Homo sapiens: one gene and its partners. The protein of the gene in region 1 purifies or fractionates together with the protein of each later gene. This does not show direct contact. Each region holds a gene or a part of one and is shown in the gene's direction. Other genes may lie near its edges.

Region 1 (3,500 bases):
CCCTGACCTCAAGTGATTTGCCTGCTTCAGCCTCCCAAAGTGCTGGTATTACAGGTGGGAGCCACTACGCCCAGCCTGTTGTTTTTTTTTTTTCTTAATAGCTTTATTGAGATAGAATTCACGTACTACATAATTCACCCATTTAAAGTATACAGCTCAGTGTTTTCTAGTATATTCACAGACTTGTGCAGCCATTTCCACAGTCAATTTTAGAACATTGTCGTCACCCCAAAAAGAAACCCCATGCCTCTTACCTGTCACCGCTAATCCTTCCATACCTCCCATCTTCAGTTCTAGGCAGCCACTAATCTTTCTCTGTATATGGATTTGCCTATTGTGGCTACTTCATATAGATGGAATCATACCATATGTGTCTTTCGTGTGTGGCTTCTTTCAGTCAGTATAATGTTTTCAAAGTTCATCCACGTTGTAGCATGTATCAGAACTCCATTCCTGGCCGGGCGCGGTGGCTCACGCCTATAACCCCAACGCTTTGGGGTGCCAAGGCAGGTGGATCACCTGAGGTCAGGAGTTCAAGACCAGCCTGGCCAACATGGTGAAACCCCATCTCTACTAAAAAATACAAAAAAATATTAGCCAGGTGTGGTGGCGGACACCTGTAATCCCAGCTACTCGGGAGGCTGAGGCAGAAGAATCACTTGAACCCAGGAAGCAGAGGTTGTAGTGAGCCAAGATTGCGCCATTGCACTCCAGCCTAGGTGACAGAGTGAGACTATGTCTCAAAAAAAAAAAAAAAAGAAAAGAAAAAAGAACTCCATTCCTTTTTATGACTGAATAATATTCCTTTGCACAAATAGACCCTGTTTTATTTTGCCATTCATCAGCTGATGGACATGTGGGTTGTTTCTATCTTTTGGCTGTTGTGAATAGTGCTGCCGTGAACACTCGTGTCCATGTTTTGTGTGGACCTCTGGGGGGGTCCTGAATTGTCCCGGGTGGTGTTTACTCACCTCCCTCCCCCATGTGAGAAGGGGTGGTAGCTGGCTCCTCTCTGTGGAGAACTGTCAACATGGGAAGCCTCGGTATATTCTTGTTGAATGAGCTCAGCACTTTAGAGTATCACTTAGCAAACCACAGACATTGAGTCCCGAGGTGAACAAGAGAGAACAGGCCGTGCCCTTCATGGGACTCATGTCCACTGGAGCAGAGAATATTGATCCATCCATCTCCCTCGGGAATGTGAGATCACACAGGGAGATCGGGCTCCCAGGGAGGCCTTTCATCTGTCTGAATGTCTAGAGGTCCTAGAACTAGCCTGGCAGGGCTGTTGGACAGAAAGGGCCTCCCCTAGGGGGCAGCACTTGATCTAATTCAGTGAGAGGGCAGGGAGAGCAGTCTGGACTCAGGGGCCAGCATGTGCAAGGCCTGGTGGTTGAGAACTGGGGCCGCCTGGTACAAGGGATGCTGGGAAATTAGCAGGGGCCAGAGCATGTCCAGCTCCATGCCTGCTCCTCATTGGTGTCTGTCCTTATGGAGCTCACAGTTATTAGAAATGGGGAGGACTTGTCTGGGCACGGTGGTTCACACCTGTAATCCCAGCACTTTGGGAGGCCTTGGTGGGCAGATCACTTGAGGTCAGGAGTTCGAGACCAGCCTGGCCAACCCCAGTAGAGATGGGCGAAACCCCATCTCTATTAAAAATACAAAAAAAATTAGCCAAGTGTGGTGGTGTGCGCCTGTAGTCCCAGCTACTCAGGAGGCTGAGGCGGGAGAATCGGTTAAACCCAGGAGGCGGAGGTTGCAATGAGCTGAGATCGGGCCACTGCACTCCAACCTGGGCGACAGAGCAGACTCCGTCTCAAAAAATAAGAAAAAAAAAAAAGAAATGGGGAGGACTTAGCCGGGCACAGTGGCTCACGCCCATAATCCCAGCACTCTGGGAGGCCAAGGCTGGTGTATCACTTGAGGCCAGGAGTTTGAGACCAGCCTGGCCAACATGGCAAAACCCCATCTCTACTAAAAATACAAAAATTAGCCGGGTGTGTTGATGCGCGCCTGTAATCCCAGCTAGTCAGGAGGCTGAGGCAGAGAATTTCTTGAACCCAGGAGGCGGAGGTTGCAGTGAGCCGAGATTGGGCCACTGCACTCCAGCCTGGGTGACAGAGCGAGACTTCATCTCAAAAAAAAAAAAAGAAACAGGGAGGATTTCATTCATTCACCAAATAACCAAATATGTGCTGGACCCTGAGGACCAAGCTGTCGATGAGACAGACAGTCCTTGTCTTCCTGGGGCTCAACCAACCAGCCATTAGGCAGTGACAGGCAAGAGGGGTGGGGGTGACTGGTGCCTGTCCCATCGCCTGCCTGTGAGGGGAAGGAGTGGAAAGGACCATCTCATGGGAGGGACAGAGGAGGGGTTGGTGAAAGCTGGGACCACACTAGTCCTCTGACACATCTTCTTGCACCCCCAGACAGCCACAACCAAAGTCCCGGAGATCCGTGATGTAACAAGGATTGAGCGAATCGGTGAGTGAGTTGGGTCAGGAATAGGACCTAAGCCCTGCCTGCCATGTGCCCTGACAGAGCAAACCTATTGAGGACCCCTAAGATGGAGAGGGAGGTGGCCTGCACACCAACTGTGCCCCCACTACCATTCCCCCACTCGCCCTATCTAATGGGGGAGGAGGATCCTCAGTTCCAGAGTTGGGTCAGATGATGCACTGGGGACCAGGCTGCTATCCTGGCTATCCTGGTGGGGTTCCCGGGTATGTTTGCCTGGAAGTCATAGATATTTACTGGGTGCTTTACTGGGTTTGGCCTCGTATACCCAGTACACACTGTGGGGTGAGTTCCCTGAGGGCAGGGACGAGGTCGTGTCATTCCTAGCTGTGTCCCTAGCACAGGACCTAACAGAGCAGATGATCAAGAGATAACCATTGAATGCACGAGTTTGCGTCCTGTGGAGCCCTCGCAGTAGCCGCATGAGGTGCATATTGTAACTGTTAGCTGAGGGAACTGATTTTCAGGACAGCTAAATCACTGGCCCCGGCTCACACAGAGCAGGAAGTTGAGACGCAGTGAGGCCAGCAGGGTGCGCTCTCACAAAGAGCTTTACCGGCAGGGAAGTGACCGCATTCATTCATGCAGCAGGCTCACTGATTCAGGGCATCCGAGAAAGGCAGTAAGGGCTTCTGGCTGTGAAGATGGGTTTTAGAAGCCCAGTGCTGGATTCCTGGAGCTTAGCTCTGCCACTTTCCCACCATGTGGCCAGGGACTAGTTCCTCTCTGTGCCTCAGTTTCCTTATCTGCAAGACGAAGCTAAGATAGTTTACCTCATCAGTTAATGTAAGATTCAGTAAGGTAGTTCATATAAAGCATTTTGGGTCTGTGTGCCAACACTGTTTCATCTATTAAAAGTGCTGGGGCACTGGGTGCAGTGGCTCATGCCTGTAATTCCAGCACTTTGGAAGGCCAAGGTGGGCGGATCACCTGAGGTCAGGAATTTGAGACCAGCCTGGCCAACATGGTGAAACCTCGTC
Region 2 (3,500 bases), on another chromosome or scaffold:
ATATCTGTAGGGAATTGTAGTTTCCCGGTTGAGATAAGAGCTCGATTGAAGGCAGTGGCAATGGTATTAAAAAGGAGGGGATTTGAGAAATACTTAGCAGAAATATTTGGCAGAACTTGAAAGATGGAGGTGTTCACAAAAACTCTCAGATTTTTGCCAGTGTGGACTGGTGGTCAGCAATGTGTTAGGCAATGCTGAGATCAGCAGTGCTTCAGATGTGTTGAATTTGAGATACCCATGAGGCATCAGATGCAATTATGTTGATGTACAGTGAAAAGTTCAGGATATGGATGTAGACACTGGTTAGAGCTTGAGAGAGAGAGAGATTTGAAATTGGAATTATCAGTATTTAGGTAGAAGTTGAAGCTATAGGAGTAGAATATATTACCCAGGAAAGGGTAAATTAGGGAAGGAGCTCCTAACATAGGGTTTGTGGCCTTCCCAAAGTTTCCATGGTAGAACTATATTTTATTATAATTGGCTTCTTTTATAAACATTTAAAAACATTCTAAGAAGGGATTCATAATTTCCTAAACTGTATTAGTTTGTAGGGCTGCCATAATAAAGTACCACAGTCTGTGTGGCTTAAACAACAGAAATTAGTTTTCTCACAATTCTAGAGGATAGAGGTAGATCTAAGTGTCAGCAGAGTTGGTTTCTTCTGAGGTCTGTCTCTGTGTGTAGATGGCCATCTCCTCCTCTGTCTTCACATGGCCGTCCCTCTGTACAAGTCCAAGTCTGAATTTTCTCTTTTTGTTGTTGTTGTTGTTGTTGTTGTTTTTGAGACTGAGACTTGCTCTGTCACCCAGGCTGGAGTGCAGTAGCACGATCTCAGCTCGTTGCAGCCTCCGCCTGCCGGGTTCAAGCAATTCTCCTGCCTCGGCCTCCAGAGTAGCTAGGACTACAGGTGCATACGGCCACGCCCGGCTAATTTTTTGTATTTTGGGTAGAGTTGGGGTTTCACCATGTTGGCCAGGATGGTCTTGATCTCCTGACCTCGTAATCTGCCCGCCTCTGCCTCCCAAAGTGTTGGGCTTACAGGTGTGAGCCACCGCGCGCCCTGCCTGAATTTTCTCTTAAAAACATCACTCATACTGGATTAGGACCCAATCTAATGATTTCATTTTAACTTAATTACTTCTTCAAAGATTCTGGTTTCACCGGGCATGGTAGCTCACGTCTATAATCCTAGCACTTTGGGAGGGCAAGGCGAGTGGATCACCTGAGGTGTGGAGTTTGAGACCAGCCTGGCCAACATGGTGAAACCCCATGTCTACTAAAAATATAAAACCTAGCCGGGCTTGGTGGCCAGCAGATGTAATCCCAGCTACTCAGGAGGCTGAGGCAGAAGAATCACTTGAACCCCGGAGGTGGAGGTTGCAATGAGCTGAGATTGTGCCATTGCACCCCAGCCTGGGCGACAGGAGTGAAACTCTGTCTCAAAACATAAAAATAAATAAATAAATAAAGAATAAAGACTCTGGTTTCAAGTACAGTCACATTCTGAGGTACTAGGGGTTAGGATTTTGACATATGAATTTTAGGGCGACACAATTCAGTCCACAACACTGTCATAAGGGTCCATAACACAGAACAGGTTAAGGGCTCCTGGCGCAGGGCAAAAGATAAATCCTTGAGGAACAGAAGTTGAAATTTTTGGTTAACTATACAATTAATTCATTTAATTAGGATATCTCTTTACCCAGCATTCTGGTTAATAAAAGTATTAAATTTTACCAACTCATATTCATTGCTATACTTACGATTTGTACTCAAGTTTAGGTGCTGTGGTGAAAACAAATACAGTGTTCTCCTTTTAAGGACCCCCTAGTTTCTGACAAAATAATTTGGACCAGAGAATTTCACAGGGAAGGGTTAATTATCTTGAGAAATGTAACAAATACGTAAACTTTCTTTTATATTAGAAATTAAAATATGTCTCTGTTTTATTTGAATAAAAATGAGAGGCTGGGCGCGGTGGCTAACACCTATAATCCCAGCACTTTGAGAGGCCAAGGCGGGTGGATCACGAGGTCAGGAGTTTGAGACCAGCCTGGCCAATATGGTGAAACCCCATCTCTACTAAAAATACAAAAATTAGCTGGGCATGGTGGTGCGCGTCTGTAGTCCCAGCTGCTCAGGAGGCTGAGGCAGGAAAATCTGTTGAACCTGGGAGGTAGAGGTTGCAGTGAGCCGAGATCACGCCACTGCACTCCAGCCTGGGCAGCAATACAGCAAGACTCCGTGTCAAAAAAAAAAAAAAAAAAAGAGATCATTCTGCAAAGCTACTGTCTCTTAACTGATACTTGCAAAGTAATGGGTTTGATTTTAAAAATTTTAAGTTTTTGAAATATTTTAAACATATTAAAAATATGTAAGTTTGTATGTGATATTACTGTAATCACCTGTAAGTTTGTATGTAATACAATACTGCATTCACCAGTGAGATTAAATAGATGTCATATTTTGCCATATTAATACCTCAGATATTTTAAGAATAAAAATGTTATTGATACAGATTTCCTCTCTCTCCCTTCTTCAGTTCATGTAACCACTGAACTGAAGTTGGTATGTAACATTCCCAGACCCCATGCATATTTTCTTTTTTTTTTTTGAGACGTGTGTGTGTGTGTATATGTGTATATATGTATGTGTATACATATGGTTTTTTGATAACTAGCTTTTAAAACTAAGCATTCTTTTAGATTTATTGATGCTGACATATGTAGATCTAAAGTGTTCATTTGAACTGCTGTACAGGATTCCATTGTGTGAATATATTATTGCTTATCTATTTCCCTGCTGAGAGACCATTAGATTATTTCTGCCTTTTCCTATGGCAAGCAGTGTGTCAATTATAATAGCAGCTTACACTTAGCATGTGTATTTTCTAAGACTTCATATACATGAAAGCACTTAACATGTTTAATCATTAGAGTATCCTGTGAGATAAGAGCTATTATGTACATTTTACATATTAGGAAACTGAAGCAGAGAGGTTAATAAATTGCTCAGTTCTTGTAGCTGTTGAACATTCTTTTGCATGTCTCCTTGCAACCTGTATGAGAGAGTGTCTCCAGAATAAGTAAGTGTAATTCTATGTATGCACAATTTCAACTTTAATAGATATGACTAAATTGCCCATAGTGGTTGTCCCACTTTGGACAATAAATTATAGAATCACCCTAGTTGATGGTGGAGGGAGGTTGCTGGTATATTTATTAGCCTGGTTCATTCACCTCAGGGTAATCCATGGCTAACTGCATCCCCTCTACTAAAAGTCACAGCTCCTGTCAGGTAGCCCTCCCCATACAACTTTCTCTCCAGATTCTGATAACAGTTATTTCTTCTTGTTTCTTCAGTTTGAAGAATGGCAATGGATCCATTATTATTAGTTATCATTATAGTACTGGGGTACTGTACTGTCCCTTCTGGTTGTCCTGTATTTCACCTATATCTTTGCAAATAATTCCCTTTAATAAGTAAACTGAAATTACCCA
Region 3 (3,500 bases), on another chromosome or scaffold:
CAGTATCTTAGTCTGCTATAACAGAACACTGTTTATAAAGAACAGAAATTGCTGAATGTGGTGGCTCACGCCTATAATCCCAGTACTTTGGTAGGCTGGGGCGGATGGTTCTCTTGAGCCCAGGAGTTTGAGACCAGCCTGGGCAACTTAGGGAGACTCTGTCTCTACAAAAAGTAAAAAAATTAGCTGGGCATGATGGCATGTGCCTGTAGAGAGGCTGAAGTGGGAGGATCACTTGATCCTGGGAGGTCGACTCTGCAGTGAGCCATGATCGCACCAGTGCACTCCAGCCTGGGGGACAGAGTGAGACCTTGTGTCAAAAAAAAAAAAAGAACATAAATGTATTTCTCATAGTTCTGGAGGCTGAGAAGTCCAAGGCTAGAAAGTCCAAGATCAGGGTGCCAGCATTTGGTGTCTGGTGAGGGTCTGGTCTCTACTTCCAATATGGTGCTTTGAATTCAGTGTTTTCATATGACAGAAGGTGGAAAGGCAAAAAAGGATAAACTCTGTTTTTTTATATGGCCATTAATGTATTAGTGAGGATGGTAGAGCCCTTGAGACCTAAACACCTCCCAAAAGGCTCCACTTCCAAACACTGTTGGCATTGGGGAATATGTTTCCAACACATGAATTTTGGGGGACACATTCAGACCATAACAATCAGCATATGGATAGTTATTTTATTTGTTTGTTTGTTTGTTTGTTTGTTGTAGAGATGTTGTCTTGCCATGTTGTCCAGGCTGGCCTTGAAGTCCTGGGCTCAGCCTCCCAAAGTGTTGGGATTATAGGCATGACCCACCATTCCTGGCTGCTAGCAATTTTAATTGTAGTAAATTTAGTCATAAAGGATGCAGTCACCCAATAAGTTATATAGAATTCCAGGGTGGAATTCTAAGGAAGTGGATTGAGGAAAAGTTTAGTGCCCCTCATGCTGTGTACTCCCCCGTGATAGTATTTGTCACTGTGTAGAGGAATTGCCCATTTACTTGGTCATATTTCTTGTAGAGAGGAGGCTCTTTAGGGAAAGGGGCCGTGCCTTGTCTACCTCTGTATCCCCAGCACCAAAAACAATGCCTAGCTCATGGTAGGTTCTCAATAAATATTTGTTGATTAAATGTATAATGATAGAGAGTGAGGGGCCGGAGAGGTAGGTGAACCAGAAAGTACTGGGTTGCAGAAGCTAAAGAAGGGAGGGATTGGGCAAGTGTTGGCGGCAACTGGGGCAGAAGCTAGATTGTGGTAGATTGCAGTACATGGATGGCTAACTGAAGAGGAGACATCAGGTTGAACCCTTTTTTTGGAGACAGGGCCTCACTCTGTCACTCAGGCTGGAGTGCAGTGGCATGATCCTGGCTCACTACCACCTCTGCCTCCCAGGCTCAAGCAGTCCTCCCACCTCAGCCTTCCAAGTAGCTGGAACCACAGGTGTGCACCCTTTTTGTATTTTTTGTTTAGAAGACAAACGGTTGTCTTTTGTTTAGAGACAGGATTTCGCCATGTTGCCCAGGCTGGTCTCAAACTCCTGAGCTCAAGTCATCTACCCGCCTCAGCCTCCCAAAGTGCTGGGTTTACAGGCGTGAGCCATCATGCCCAGCTGGTTGAACCCTTTTAAAGGGAAGCTTGTGTGAGGTAGGGAGAGAGGATTGTTGATAAGGGAGATGGAGATGTAGTGGCTAAAAGTTGAGCATATTGAAATAATTCTTATGGAAAATAGCCAGAAGAGAGGGAGAGGCTGAAGATACAGGAAAGGGACTAGTAGTGATGGAGCTTCCTGAGGAGACCAGGGGAGATGGAAACCGGAGCCCAGCTAGAGACACTAACCTTCAACAAATTCCTTTGTGATGCGAGGGTAAATGTCAAGGAAAAGTTCAAATGGAGGTAAGTTTGAAGAGGAGAAGATAAGGAGAAAGTTGAGGGAGTTCTCAAGATCAGGAAAGAGAATATTCCTTTTCCTGAGGGTGGGGTAGGGCAGTTGGTGGAGCAGGAATCTTGAAGAGAGGAGATTTAAATAGCTTTTGCAAAAGTGGGGGGCTAGGGAAAGAAATTTGGAAGGATTGCTGGCAGTGATAAGAATCATTTTGAGGCTGGAACCTGTGATTTTTGTAGTCATATCATTTTGCACAGTTTTATGATAACATTTTATGATAACATTGTCAGTTTAAAAGAAGAAAAAAATGGGCTGGGCATGGTGGTTCACGCCTGTAATCCCAGTAGTTTGGGAGGCCAAGGCGGAAGGATCACTTGAGACCAGGCGTTCAAGACCAGCCTGGGCAACAAAATGAGACCTCCCCCAGCTCTACAAAACAACACAAAAAAATAAGCTGGGTGTGGTGGCACTTGCCTGTAATCGCAGCTACTTGGGAGGTTGAGGTGGGAGACTGAGGCAGGTGGATGGTTTGAGCCCAGGTGGAGCCTGCAGTGACCCATAATGGCACCACTGCACTCAGCTTGAGTGACAAAGCAAGACCCTGCCTCAAAAAAAGAAAAAGAAAAAGTACAAAGACCTCAGTCTTTAGATAAGGGAATAGACTTCTTTTTTTGCGGGGGGGACGGAGTCTTGCTCTGTCGCCCAGGCTGGAGTGCAGTGGCGCCATCTCGGCTCACTGCAAGCTCTGCCTCCAGGGTTCATGCCATTCTCCTGCCTCAGCCTCCCGAGGAGCTGGGACTGGAGGCGCATGACACTACGCCTGGCTAATTTTTTTTTTTTTTTTTTTTTTTTTTTTTTGAGATGGAGTCTTGCTCTTTCACCCAGGCTGGAGCGCAGTGGCGCGATCTCGGCTCACTGCAACCTCCACCTCCCAGGTTCACGCCATTCTCCTGCCTCAGCCTCCCGAGTAACTGGTACTACAGGCGCCTACCACCACACCTGGCCAATTTTTTGTATTTTTAGTAGAGACGGGGTTTCACCGTGTTAGCCAGGATGGTCTCCATCTCCTGACCTTGTGATTCGCCCGCCTCGGCCTCCCAAAGTGGTGGGATTACAGGCGTGAGCCAGCGCGCCCGGCCTTTTTTTTTTTTTTTTGAGACCAAGTTTTGCTCTTGTTGCCCAGGCTGGAGCGCAGTGGCGCAATCTCAACTCACTGCAACCTCCGCCTCCCAGGTTTAAGCGATTCTCCTGCCTCAGCCTTCCTGAGTAGCTGGGATTACAGGCATATGCCACCACGCCCGGCTAATTTTGTATTTTTAGTAGAGACGGGGTTTCTCCATGTTGGTCAGGCTGGTCTTGAACTCTCGACCTCAGATGATCGCCTGCCTCGGCCTCCCAAAGTGTTGGGATTACAGGCGTCAGGCACCGCGCCCGGCCATTTTTTGTATTTTTAGTAGAGACGGGTTTCACCGTGTTAGCCAGGATGTTCTTGATCTCCTTACCTCATGATCCACCCGCCTCGGCCCAAAGTGCTGGGATTACAGGCGTGAGCCACTAGGCCCAGCCGGGAATAGACTTCTTACTTGAGAAACTGAGTTTTGCAGTGAGGTCATTACTTTGGGATTCAGATTTG
Region 4 (2,663 bases), on another chromosome or scaffold:
TCCTACCTCAGCTATGGCAGCAACACAGTGATGGAATGGGTGGTGGTGTGTGTGTCAATTCTGGCCCCCGCCCTGGGTCAAATGGTAGGACAGATGTGTTGAAATCAGAGGCCATGGCTGTTGGACATTCGAGGCCATACAAAATTCAGCAGAGAGCAGAATTGCATCTTAACCTGGCACCACCCAGTGTTGAAAGAGTCAGTCAAGCATGGGTTGGCAACTCCACCCCATGGAGCTGCTGGCATTAGAGCACAGAATGACAGGTCTGCACTCAGAAACCGGGGGCGGTACTGAGTATCCTGCACAGGCTGTGTGGGAGGAGCTTCTGACTTGTCAGATGTGAATTCCTGCTTTGCCTGCTTTCTGTGAGAGGTCCTTGCAGTCATGAGAGAAACAGCTCCTCCGGGCCTTTCCACCCCAAGCCCCGTGCTGCTGCTGTGCTCCTTCTCTTGTGCCTGCCTCAAGGCTTCTTGGATTTGGGGGATGAGACTGTCTTCAAATCCTCAGTAAACTAAGGCCCTGTCCGGGTTTGTAGTCAGAAAACGTCCTGTTAGATTCAGTTGGGATCTTTCTTGGTGCCTTGCTACCTTTTGACTCACTGAACCTTTCTTGTCCATTATTGCCCAAGATCTAACACTTAACCAATTGCTTTCATCTCAGCGGAAGCGAGAGAGTGAGAGTGAAAGTGACGAGACTCCTCCAGCAGCTCCTCAGTTGATCAAGAAGGAAAAGAAGAAGAGTAAGAAGGACAAGAAGGCCAAAGCTGGTCTGGAGAGCGGGGCCGAGCCTGGAGATGGGGTGTGTGGAAACACGTTCAGGTTCCTTGGGCTGGCTTAGTCCCTGCGTGGGGAAAGAATTACCCAGGTGGTACCAGCTTTGTTACTCTTCTTGGAGGAGCTGTGGCCTGGGGGTGGGATGCCACCGAGTGCCTTTAGTGCTTCCCCATGTTCCTGGAGTGCTTTTGCCCTCCCTGTGGAATGGACAGATAGAGGCACCCGACCTCTACCACTTATACTTAGAGCTCTATTGATGGTGGGTGGAGAGGATGTGTAGGATGGTGATCTGAATGTTTCCACTTCCAAAAGTAGACCACTAGGGTGTCACTGAAAGGTTTACAGAACTTTGTGTCACATGCAGCATTTAACCCAAAATATCCTTACAGGTCCTGAAAAAGGCTTGCTTGACTGTGGACCTTTACCAGATTTCCTTCTGGGAGAGTCATAGCTTTGTTAGTGGATGGTATCTGTGAGCTTTCATTCTCTTTCTTTCTAGGACAGTGATACCACCAAGAAGAAGAAGAAGAAGAAGAAAGCAAAAGAGGTAGAATTGGTTTCTGAGTAGTGAAGGCCACTTGAAGCTGGAGGAGAAACTAAAGCCTTATTGAGAAAACATGTTATAGATCCTTTTGTTGCTGAGAGAGTGGAACATAGGTCCTAGACAGGGTGAAGAGTTCTGGCACATTTTAGCTGCTACTTTGAGACCTCGGTGATGTTACCTGGTGTGGTCATCCCATCTTGTCCTGTTTTAAGGATATGGGTGGTGAAAGATGAAAGAGGCAGAGTTTATCCCAATGACTTCTCTGTTTGAGTTGGGAAGCCTCACCTTCAGACCCAGTAACTGTCCGCAGCTGTCTGCTAGTGGTTGTCTTAACATCGTAGTCCTAGTTTGCATTTTTTAAATCCCCTCTGTTTAAAAGGTTTGTAAAACAAAAACAAAAAACTAAGTCTGCTCAGTGAAATGCTGTAGAACCCTAAATAAGTGGTAGAAGAGTGTCACTGAATTTTGTCTCTGAATTCAGTATAACTGAGTTTTGTCCATGCTGGTGTCTGGGTTATAGGCCTGATGGGCCTGGTAGTTTTCCATCTTGTTCTGGCCTAGAGGTCAGTCCTTTGCACTTCCTCAAAGCTTGTGTACAGTGCTCACCTAAATCCATCTGACTACTTGTTCCTGTGCCCTCTTGTTTTAGGCCTCGTTTACTTTTAAAAAATGAAATTGTTCATTGCTGGGAGAAGAATGTTGTAATTTTTACTTATTAAAGTCAACTTGTTAAGTTTTTTATGTATTCCTGTTGGGTTTTCTTGTTGATCTCATGCTAGCAGAGCAAAAATTGTAAAATATTTTGATTAAAAATCTAGGGACCTTTATGTCCTATTTGAAATGTGATGCTTTTATGTTTGTTTTCTGGTTTTTACATTTTTGTTCTGTATCTTACACAATCCACCTTGGGCCCTGTCATCTGATGTGAGATCAAGTACTCAGAGGCAGTGATTACCACAAAACCACTGATCTCTAGAAGAACAGAGAAGGAGAGGGTTAATGTATTTATACATAGTGGGCCTGGCAGGAGCGGGGGGCAGGGTGAGTCGGGAGAACGAAGCTGAGGGTGGGGACATGCAGGAATCTGAAGGCCTTGGTGACAGATTAGTGGAAGAAAGGTCTAGGGTTGCTTCCGATTTGGTATTAAGAACCAAGAAAGAGGCCGGGTGCAATGGCTCACACCTATAATCCCAGTGCTTTGGGAGGCTGAGGCGGGCAGATCACCCGAGGTCAGGAGTCTGAGACCAGCCTGGGCCAACATGGCAAAACCCATCTCTACTACAAATACAAAAATTAGCCAGGTGTGGTGGCGTGTGCCTGTAATCCCAGCTACTCGGGAGGCTGAG
Region 5 (3,500 bases), on another chromosome or scaffold:
GGCATGCACCACCACACTTGGCTAATTTTGTATTTTTAGTAGAGATGGGGTTTCTGCATGTTGGTCAGGCTGGGATCGAACTCCCAACCTCAGGTGATCCTCCCGTCTCAGCCTCCCAAAGTACTGGGATTATAGGCGTGAGTCACCACGCCCAGCCCTAAGCATATGCTTCTTTAGTGATTCAAATGCCTGGGGGAAAAATATTCAGGGTGAAAAAATGAAGATAATACTTGCCTAACCTACTTTACATTATTTTAAAAGATTATTGTAAGATAAAATGCAATAGGGAATGTGAAAATGTTCTGAAAATTATTAAGTGCTGTTGAATAAGATGAAGTAGAAGTAGAAATAGAAACAGTGATTTTTGAGTGTCATTTCAATAGAGGGATAAAAGCCACTTTGGAAGGATTTGAAATAAGTGCTAATAAAGTCAGAGATGTGCATATCAGTTATTCATTGATTTGGCAGTGAAAGGACGAATAGAAATTAGATGATGGAGGAGACTTTTCTTAAATTTTTAATTGGAAAATTTTCTAACTTAAAAGTTGAAAGTACCATAAATACTAACATAGCCTCAATCTAGACTCTACAATTATTAACATTTTGCTACATTTGTTTTCTTTCTGTGTGTCTATAGAAAATTTGGGTTTTTTTTGTCAAACCATTTGAAAGCACATTGTAGGCATCATGACATTTTACCCCAAGTGCTTCAACATGCTTATTTAAATAATAAGGACCTTGTCCTGCATAACCACAATACCATGTTCACACTTAAGAAAATTAATAACTCTGGCCGGGCGCGGGAGCTCATGCCTATAATCCCAGCACTTTGGGAGGCTGAGGTGGGTGGATTGCCTGAGGTCAGGAGTTTGAGACCAGCCTGGCCAACATAGTGAAACCCCGTCTCTACTAAAAATAAAAAAAAAATTAGCTGGGCCTGGTGGCAGGCACCTGTAATCCCAGCTACTCTGGAGGCTGAGGCAGAAGAATCGCTTGAACCCAGGAGGCAGAGGTTGAAGTGCGCCGAGATTGTGCCATTGCACTTCAGCCTGAGCAACAAGAGTGAGACTCCGTCTCAAAAAAAAAAAGAAGAAAAATAATAACTCTACAATATTTTCTGATATCCATTCCATACTCAGATTTCCCCAGTTCTAAAAATCTTCATTAGGTAGAAGATTTTATTTCTTCAAGATCCAAAGTATATACATTGCATTTGCCTGATAGCTCAGTAGTCTCTTAATTTATAATACTCCCCCTGTCCTTTTGTCTCTCCACATTATTAACCTGGGAAGGGGCTAAGCCGTTGTCTTACCAAATGTCCTACATTCTAGATTTGTCTAGATTTCTCATGGTGTAACTTTCCTTCTTAATCATTTCAGGTAACCTTTATCAAAAGGATGGAGTTGGGAAAAGGAAAACTACTCAGGACTGGACTGAATGCGTTGCATCAAGCAGTGCATCCGATCCATGGCCTTGCCTGGACCGATGGGAATCAAGTTGTCCTAACTGATTTGCGGCTTCACAGTGGAGAGGTCAAGTTTGGGGACTCCAAAGTCATTGGACAGTTTGAATGTGTCTGTGGGTTGTCCTGGGCCCCACCTGTTGCAGATGATACACCTGTTCTACTCGCTGTCCAGCATGAGAAGCATGTCACTGTGTGGCAGCTGTGTCCCAGCCCTATGGAGTCAAGCAAATGGCTGACGTCTCAGACTTGTGAGATTAGAGGATCACTACCTATCCTTCCCCAGGGCTGTGTGTGGCACCCAAAATGTGCTATTCTGACTGTGTTGACTGCTCAGGATGTCTCCATTTTCCCTAATGTTCACTCTGATGATTCCCAGGTAAAGGCAGACATCAACACCCAGGGCCGCATTCACTGTGCATGTTGGACCCAGGATGGCCTGAGGCTGGTGGTGGCAGTAGGCAGCAGCCTGCATTCTTATATTTGGGACAGCGCTCAGAAGACTCTTCACAGGTGCTCCTCCTGCCTGGTGTTTGATGTGGACAGCCACGTCTGCTCCATCACAGCAACTGTGGACTCACAGGTTGCTATAGCTACTGAGCTTCCATTGGATAAGATCTGTGGCTTAAATGCATCTGAAACCTTTAATATCCCACCTAACAGTAAAGACATGACTCCGTATGCTTTACCAGTTATTGGTGAAGTACGCTCTATGGATAAAGAGGCAACTGATTCTGAAACAAATTCTGAAGTATCAGTTTCTTCTTCCTATTTAGAACCTCTGGATCTAACTCACATACATTTCAATCAACATAAGTCTGAGGGTAATTCTCTTATTTGTCTAAGAAAAAAGGACTACTTGACAGGAACTGGCCAAGATTCTTCACATTTGGTCCTTGTGACCTTTAAGAAGGCAGTTACCATGACGAGAAAAGTCACTATTCCAGGCATTCTGGTTCCTGATCTGATAGCATTTAATCTTAAAGCCCACGTAGTGGCAGTGGCTTCCAACACTTGTAATATAATTTTGATCTACTCTGTCATTCCATCTTCAGTCCCAAACATCCAGCAAATTCGATTAGAGAACACTGAAAGACCAAAAGGGATATGTTTCTTGACAGACCAACTATTACTAATTTTGGTAGGAAAACAAAAACTCACTGATACAACATTTCTTCCTTCTTCAAAGTCTGATCAGTATGCCATTAGCTTGATTGTTAGAGAAATAATGTTGGAAGAAGAACCTTCAATAACATCAGGTGAAAGCCAGACTACCTACTCTACTTTCAGTGCTCCGTTAAATAAAGCAAATAGAAAAAAGTTAATTGAAAGTCTTTCCCCAGATTTTTGTCACCAAAACAAAGGGCTGTTGCTGACAGTTAATACCAGTAGTCAGAATGGAAGGCCTGGAAGAACACTTATTAAAGAAATCCAGAGTCCTCTGTCTAGTATCTGTGATGGCTCCATAGCTCTAGATGCTGAGCCTGTTACCCAGCCAGCATCGCTGCCCAGACACAGCAGCACACCAGACCACACCAGCACACTGGAGCCTCCTCGTTTGCCTCAAAGAAAGAACTTACAAAGTGAAAAGGAAACTTATCAGCTGTCTAAGGAAGTGGAAATTTTATCTAGGAACCTGGTTGAAATGCAACGGTGTCTTTCTGAACTTACAAACCGTCTGCATAATGGGAAGAAATCCTCTTCAGTGTATCCACTCTCTCAAGATCTTCCTTATGTTCACATCATTTACCAGGTAAATTCTCCTTTGAGGAACTACCACTATACATAAAAGCTCCTGCAGCCGGTGAGTACTGCAAGAAACGTATTGATGAGGAAGATGGTGCTCTAACTGAGCTTCACTAAGCTGGGCATGTTATGTTACAGGCAAGTTGGTACACCTTTGCAGGTTGGTTGGTTTTTAGCCTGCCAACCAGATAGGCGCACATATCAGTCTGCATCATGATTTTATCAGGTGCATGACGTGGAAAAATAAATGTCTGCACTAATTCGGGCAATTTATATTTAGAAAAAAAATCAT
Region 6 (2,834 bases), on another chromosome or scaffold:
CGTGCTGTTGCACTCCAGCCTGGGCAACGAGAGTGAAAATCCATCTCAAAAAAAAAAAAAAGAAGAAGAAAAAGAAGAGAAGAACACTTTGCAGAGCCTGTATATTCATGGGAGGCCCTTTGGTGGAACGGGAAGAGGGCTGGAGTTTTGAGGCTTGGGTTTCCAGTCGTGACCGCCCCTTGTTGGCTGAGTGAACCTCAGCGGCTCTCCTACCCCTGCAAGCTCTAGTTCCCTCATCTGTAATGTAGGGATAACAATGGCACTGATTCACAAGGTGGTTAATGGAGCAAGTGCAGTGATGTTAGTGGAGCATCATCCTTTGTATATTGTTGAGAAGTATTTGTCATGACAATTAAAATGAGATATATAGTCAGTAAAGTAAAAGCTTTTATTTTATATTTTTTATTTCTAGTATTAGAGTTAGAGGCAGTATCCACTTTCCCAAATTTATTACTCTTTATTTCTTAAGTTGTGTGTCACTACCCAGAGAGAACTCCCCTTCATGGAGAAACAGAGTGGTGTACTAGTTCTTTGACTGAACTTTGCAGCAGCTCAGACTGAATCCTTTACCACTGGTAGTCAAGGTTTCAAAATATATGGTGGACATTATCTACAACTGTCTTGGGTATAAATGCAAATTATGTTGCAGCCGTCATATTCCATAGCTATGCTTTTAAAAATGCCTCAGACTGATAAAAGATTAGCCAGGGGTTATAATGCTTTGGTGAATCATTAACTGACTCTAGTGGATCTCACCTTGGTTTTCCTCTTTACCCTAAACCCCTCCCTTTCTCTAAGCGCTCTGGAAGTTCTGGCACTGAAACCCAGGGCTAAGAGAAAGCTACCCATCAACGATGGTGACTGCCCTTGTCCCACTCACCGCACTGTGCCTCCCGCTCACCCTTGGACACTGCAGTGGTGCTTCTGTGGCCTGATTACACATGTGAAGAGGCAGCAGGGGTTGTGGGGGGTGGGGGGCAATCCCTGCACAATCTCATTATTGTGCTGAGTACTTTGAGAAATAGCATTTCAGGTACATGCAGGCACCCAGATTAAAATACCATCTTTGTTCGGTATTTCCCATTGTACCATCAGCTCCACTGAAATGAAGCCTCATTTTCCTGATATTATGGGATGGACTATACTTTTACAAATGAATTTATCTTGTAAACTCACCGTCATCCAGTTTGTCTCAAAGCCACTCAATGTTTTGTATGTTCATTTAATCTTTGGAGTCAGGGAAACATAGAAACCATGTCAGCATGTTTACCACTTTCACTCACTGTCACCTTTCTTCAGTTGTCACATCAGATTTCCCCTTAAGAATAGTAGTCATCTTTGGAGAATGCCAGTTTGTGTCATGTTGGTTCTTTTAGAAACAAAAAACAACTAAATGCATCCAAGTTAATAATGGAAAAGTTTATTTACTCGATACAATGTAATATTATAAATCTAGCAGGTAATTTAGAGGAAAAGCGTCTTCGGCTGGTCATGGTGGCTCACGCCTGTAATCCCAGCACTTTGGGAGGCCGAGGTAGGTGGATCACGAGGTCAGGAGATCAAGACCATCTCGGCCAACATGGTGAAACCTCATCTCTACTAAAAATACAAAAAAAATTAGCTGGGCCTGGTGACTCATGCCTGTAATCCCAGCACTTTGGGAGGCCGAGGCTGGCAGATCACGAGGTCAGGAGATGAAGACCATCCTGGCCAACATGGTGAAACCCTGTCTCTACTAAAAATACAAAAAAATTAGCTGGGCATGGTGGTACGCGCCTGTAGTCCAAGCTACTCGGGATGCTGAGGCAGGAGAATCACTTGAACCTGGGAGGCGGAGGTTGCAGTGAGCCGAGATCACACCACTGCACTCCAGCCTGGCGACACAGTGAGACTCTGTCTCAAAAAAAAAAAATCTTCTGAAATAATATGAAATGGTTTTCTCATAAAAAGAAAAAGCACTCCATGCTGCTGATATTGCTTTTCCTCCTTGTACATTTTAAGATTATGAACATTTATATAGGTTTAAAAAATAAAACAATAGGCAGTGAAAAGGCTCCGTCACGCCATCATCCTGTGTCATCCCCCATATTTCCAGTTCCCACCTTATCTCCTTTACAGAAGTTACTGTTTTCTGTGACTTTGGAGAGTTTATTAAGAAGTATACAAGCAAATAGAAATATCTGTTTTGATATCTTTCCTGTTATTTTCCCTTTTTATATATATGTAGCATATACATATGGTGAGCCTTTTGTGTTGCTAAGCAGTAAGTCTGGATTGGCCCATGGAGAGCTTCATTCATTGTACAGCTGTAGGCTATTCCGTTGTATGGATATGTCATAACTTATTTCACCAGTCAACCAGTCTTATAACAAGGACATTTGGCTGTTTCCCATTTTTAGGTATTAAAAAACGATGTCATAGTAAATAACCTCAGACCTATGTCATACATGACATAGGTTTACTACATGTGTTTAATTTTCAGACATGGGGCTTTCTGGGTCCAGGGTATATACATTTTCCATTTTGAAAGTTATTCAGACATGGGGCTTGCTGGGTCCAGGGTATATACATTTTCCATTTTGAAAGTTATTGCCAAGTTCTCCTTCATGGGGATTGTAGCTATTTAATCTCCCTGCATCAGTATATGAAAGTGCCTTTTCTCCTGCAGTCTTGTTAACAGAATAATATCAAATGTTTGGGTATTTGCCAATAAAAAATATATCTGACATATGACTTTAATTTGTATGTCTCTTATTTGACTGGAGTTGAACATCTAATATATTTAAGAGTTACTTATATTTCCTTTTTTGAAAATTGTCTGCTTGTATCTTCTG
Region 7 (3,500 bases), on another chromosome or scaffold:
TCTAGCCACATTTTTTTCCAACGAAAATGGGGTCCTTATATTTTTTAGAAATATATTTATTAGAAAACTTTTAGTAGGGGTGTATTGCTGGAGATGAAATAAAATGTGAGAGTGGAAAGAAAGACTAGGAAAATAGCCTCCCAAATACAGAAAGCAGAACAATTCGGGCGGGGCGCGGTGGCTCACACCTATAATAATCCCAGCATTTTGGGAGGCCAAGGTAGGAGTATCACGAGGTCAGCAGATCGAGACCATCCTGGCTAACACAGTGAAACCCTGTCTCTACTGAAAATACAGAAAATTAACCGGGTGTGGTGGCAGGCGCCTGTAGTCCCAGCTAATTGGGAGTGCAGTGGCGCAGTCTCACAGCTCACTGCAGACTTGACCTCCTGTTCTCAAGCAATCCTCCCTCTTCAGTAGCTGGGACTACAGGCACATGCCACCATGCTGGCTAATTATTTTATTTTATTTTATTTCATTTATTTGAGACAGAGTCTCACTCTGTTGCCCTGGCTAGAGTGCAGTGGCATGATCTCGGCTCACTGCAACCTCTGCCTCCCGGGTTCAAGGGATTCCCCTGCCTTAGCCTTCCAAGTAGCTGGGATTACAGACGCCCGCCAACACGCCCTGGCCTCCCAAAGTGCTAGGATTACAGGCATGTGCCACCACGCCCAACCTGTAATTTTTTTTTTTTTTTAAGACGGAGTCTCACTCTGTCGCTAGGCTGAAGTGCATTGGCTCAGTCTTGGCTCACTGCAACCTCCGCCTCCTGGGTTGAAGTGATTCTCCTGCCTCAGCCTCCCGAGTAGCTGGGACTATAGGCACCTGCCACCACACCCGGCTAATTTTTGTATTTTTAGTAGAGACGGGGTTTCATCATGTTGGCCAAGATGGTCTCGATCTATTGACCTTGTGATCCACCCGCCTCGGCCTCCCAAAGTGCTGGGATTACAGGCGTGAGCCACCGCGCCTGGCATAACCTGTAATTTTAAAAAGAAGCTAAATAACAGGTAGTAAAAGATCTCCTTAAACCAACTACTTGGTCAAATTATATTAATCTTTTTATAGCTTTTAATTTATATAGCCAAGCTGTCTTCTGGAAGCTTGTATCAGTTTTTACTTCCACCAGTGATACAGTCAAGTATTCTACAAACACACTGGAAATTATGCTTCTTGTCCAACTGAGAAATGCGTATATTTAAATTAGTGCCACTTTAATATTTAGGAAATAATTTCAGGCTGGGCGCGGTGGCTCATGCCTGTAATCCCAGCACTTTGGGAAGATGAGGCGGGCGGATCACTTGAGGTCAGGAGTTTGAGACCAGCCTGTACAACATGGTGAAACCCCGTCTCTACTAAAAATACAAAATTAGCTGGGCATGGTGGCTCATGCCTGCAATAATCCCAGGCCGAGACAGGAGAATCTCTTGAACCCAGGAGGCGGAGGTTGTAGTGAGCCAAGATTGCGCCACTGCACTCCAGCCTGGGCGACAGAGTGATACTGTGTCTCAAAAAATAATAATAACAACTTCAGGAAAGTCTTTTTTTTTTTAATTTAATATAGATGTTCATGTTCTTGTAGGAAAAGCTGAATCTCAGTTGTATCCATAGTCCTGTTGTTAATGAACTTATGAGAGGAATTCGTTCACAAATGGATGGATTAATCCCTGGGGTAGAACCACGTGAAATGGCAGCTATGTGTCTTGGATTGGCTCACAGGTGAGAATTACTGGAAAATAAAGTCAACTTACTTTTATTTGATAAGCGCTTAACATAGATCTGTTCTAAGAATGTTACAAATGCTCATTTGAACCACATCAGAACCTTATGAAGAAGATGATAGTAATATCCTCATTTACAGATGAAACTGAAGCCCAAGGTCAATACAGCTGGTAAGTGGTAAAGCCAGGATTTGAACCCAGGCAGTCTGGCTCTATTGTCTGGATTCTTAAAACCTTAAAACCTCATCAAAGGAATTCTCTACTACTCTGATCTTGGATGCCCTGTTTCTTGGGCTTTCCCTCCTTTATCTCTGCTAAGTCATGCCACTCCTCCATCTACTTAGTATTCCCCCAAATTCTCTCATCTGCTATGGTCTTATGGGATAGGTGTGTATTTGTGTTTTCATTGCTTTACTCTGATTTTTAATAAGGCAAAGAGGACTAGGTGCAGTGGCTCACCCCTGTAATCCCAACTCTTTGGGAGACCAGGAGTTTGAGACTAGCCTGAGCAACATAGCAAGAAATATGTCTCTCTCTGTGTTTTTTTGTTTGTTTTGTTTTTGTTTTGTTTTTTTTGAGGCAGATTCTCACTCTGTCGCCCAGACTGGAGTGCAGTGGCGTGATCTCTGCTCACTGCAGCCCCTGCCTCCCAGGCTCAAGTGATTTTCTTGCCTCAGCCTCCGAGTAGCTAGGATTACAAGCGTGCACCACTACTGCCCAACTAATTTTTGTATTTTTAGTAGAGACGGGCTTTCACCATGTTGGCCTGGCTGATCTTGAACTCCTGACCTCAAATGATCCATCCGCCTTGGCCTTCCAAAGTGCTGGGATTATAGGCATGAGCCACCACACCCGGCATTTTTTTTTTTTTTTTTTTTTTTTTGAGTCAGGGTCTCACTCTGTTGCTCAGGCTGGGGTGCAGTGGTGCGATCTTGGCTCACTGCAACCTGGACATCCTGGACTCAAACAATGCCACCTCAGCCTCCCAAGTAGCTGGGACTGCAAGTGTGCGCCACCATCCCTGGCTGATTTTTTAACTTTTTGTAGAGACGGGGTTTTGCCATGCTGCCCAGGCTGGAACTCCCAGGCTCAAGTGATCCACTTGCCTTAGCCTCCCAAAGTGCCGCGACTGCAGGGGTGAGCCACCATGCCCAGTCTTCTCCCTATTTTTAATTGCATGTTAACCCTATCATATTTCATTAGAAGTCCCTTAGAATAGGCATTATTGCTATGTTGTGATACATCTGTTCATGAAAAGCTTAATACTTTGGAATTGCACTACAGTTAACAGGGTTGTGAAGAAAATAATGGTAGGTAGTTGCTCAAAACCTGTGCAACTTTGTAATCAGTACTGTCAAATAGTAATCCTAATAAAATTATTACCACAGTTCAAAAGACATTTTAAGCTAATATTAAAAGAAACACTACAGGCTGGGCACGGTGGCTCACGCCTGTAATCCCAACACTTTGGGAGGCCAAGGCAGGCAGATCACAAGGTCAGGAGATCGAGACCACGGTGAAACCTCGTCTCTACTAAAAATACAAAAAATTAGCCGGGCACAGTGGCGGGCGCCTGTAGTCCCAGCTACTTGGGAGGCTGAGGCAGGAGAATGGCGTGAACCCGGGAGGCAGAGCTTGCAGTGAGTGGAGATCGCTCCACTGCAGTCCAGCCTGGGTGACAGAGTGAGACTCCATCTCAAAAAAAAAAAAAAAAAAGGGAGAAAGAAACACTATAGGCCAGGCGCAGTGGCTCACGCCTGTAATACATCCCAGCACTTT

Evidence for each region.
Region 2: the proteins of RUVBL2 (region 1) and ACTL6A purify together in Homo sapiens (affinity purification with mass spectrometry; 11 studies listed by BioGRID and IntAct, with this or other methods). This does not show direct contact.
Region 3: the proteins of RUVBL2 (region 1) and HDAC1 purify together in Homo sapiens (affinity purification with western blotting; 4 studies listed by BioGRID, with this or other methods). This does not show direct contact.
Region 4: the proteins of RUVBL2 (region 1) and DKC1 purify together in Homo sapiens (affinity purification with mass spectrometry; 7 studies listed by BioGRID and IntAct, with this or other methods). This does not show direct contact.
Region 5: the proteins of RUVBL2 (region 1) and WDCP purify together in Homo sapiens (affinity purification with mass spectrometry; 7 studies listed by BioGRID and IntAct, with this or other methods). This does not show direct contact.
Region 6: the proteins of RUVBL2 (region 1) and SHQ1 purify together in Homo sapiens (affinity purification with mass spectrometry; 4 studies listed by BioGRID and IntAct, with this or other methods). This does not show direct contact.
Region 7: the proteins of RUVBL2 (region 1) and NOP58 purify together in Homo sapiens (affinity purification with mass spectrometry; 5 studies listed by BioGRID and IntAct, with this or other methods). This does not show direct contact.

What each region holds. Positions count from the first base shown.
Region 1 is NC_000019.10:48,996,887-49,000,386, forward strand, and holds part of RUVBL2 (ruvB-like 2), read left to right. Parts: intron 1-2,432; coding exon 2,433-2,487; intron 2,488-3,500. UniProt on the Homo sapiens protein: Possesses single-stranded DNA-stimulated ATPase and ATP-dependent DNA helicase (5' to 3') activity; hexamerization is thought to be critical for ATP hydrolysis and adjacent subunits in the ring-like structure contribute to the ATPase activity.
Region 2 is NC_000003.12:179,565,926-179,569,425, forward strand, and holds part of ACTL6A (actin-like protein 6A), read left to right. Parts: intron 1-3,500.
Region 3 is NC_000001.11:32,295,083-32,298,582, forward strand, and holds part of HDAC1 (histone deacetylase 1), read left to right. Parts: intron 1-3,500. UniProt on the Homo sapiens protein: Histone deacetylase that catalyzes the deacetylation of lysine residues on the N-terminal part of the core histones (H2A, H2B, H3 and H4).
Region 4 is NC_000023.11:154,775,527-154,778,189, forward strand, and holds the end of DKC1 (H/ACA ribonucleoprotein complex subunit DKC1), read left to right. Parts: intron 1-660; coding exon 661-798; intron 799-1,272; coding exon 1,273-1,341; 3' UTR 1,342-2,163; downstream 2,164-2,663.
Region 5 is NC_000002.12:24,037,392-24,040,891, reverse strand, and holds part of WDCP (WD repeat and coiled-coil-containing protein), read left to right. Parts: intron 1-1,379; 5' UTR 1,380-1,397; coding exon 1,398-3,215; intron 3,216-3,500.
Region 6 is NC_000003.12:72,751,612-72,754,445, reverse strand, and holds part of SHQ1 (protein SHQ1 homolog), read left to right. Parts: intron 1-2,834. UniProt on the Homo sapiens protein: Required for the quantitative accumulation of H/ACA ribonucleoproteins (RNPs), including telomerase, probably through the stabilization of DKC1, from the time of its synthesis until its association with NOP10, NHP2, and NAF1 at the nascent H/ACA RNA.
Region 7 is NC_000002.12:202,282,763-202,286,262, forward strand, and holds part of NOP58 (nucleolar protein 58), read left to right. Parts: intron 1-1,582; coding exon 1,583-1,719; intron 1,720-3,500. UniProt on the Homo sapiens protein: Required for the biogenesis of box C/D snoRNAs such as U3, U8 and U14 snoRNAs. Part of the small subunit (SSU) processome, first precursor of the small eukaryotic ribosomal subunit.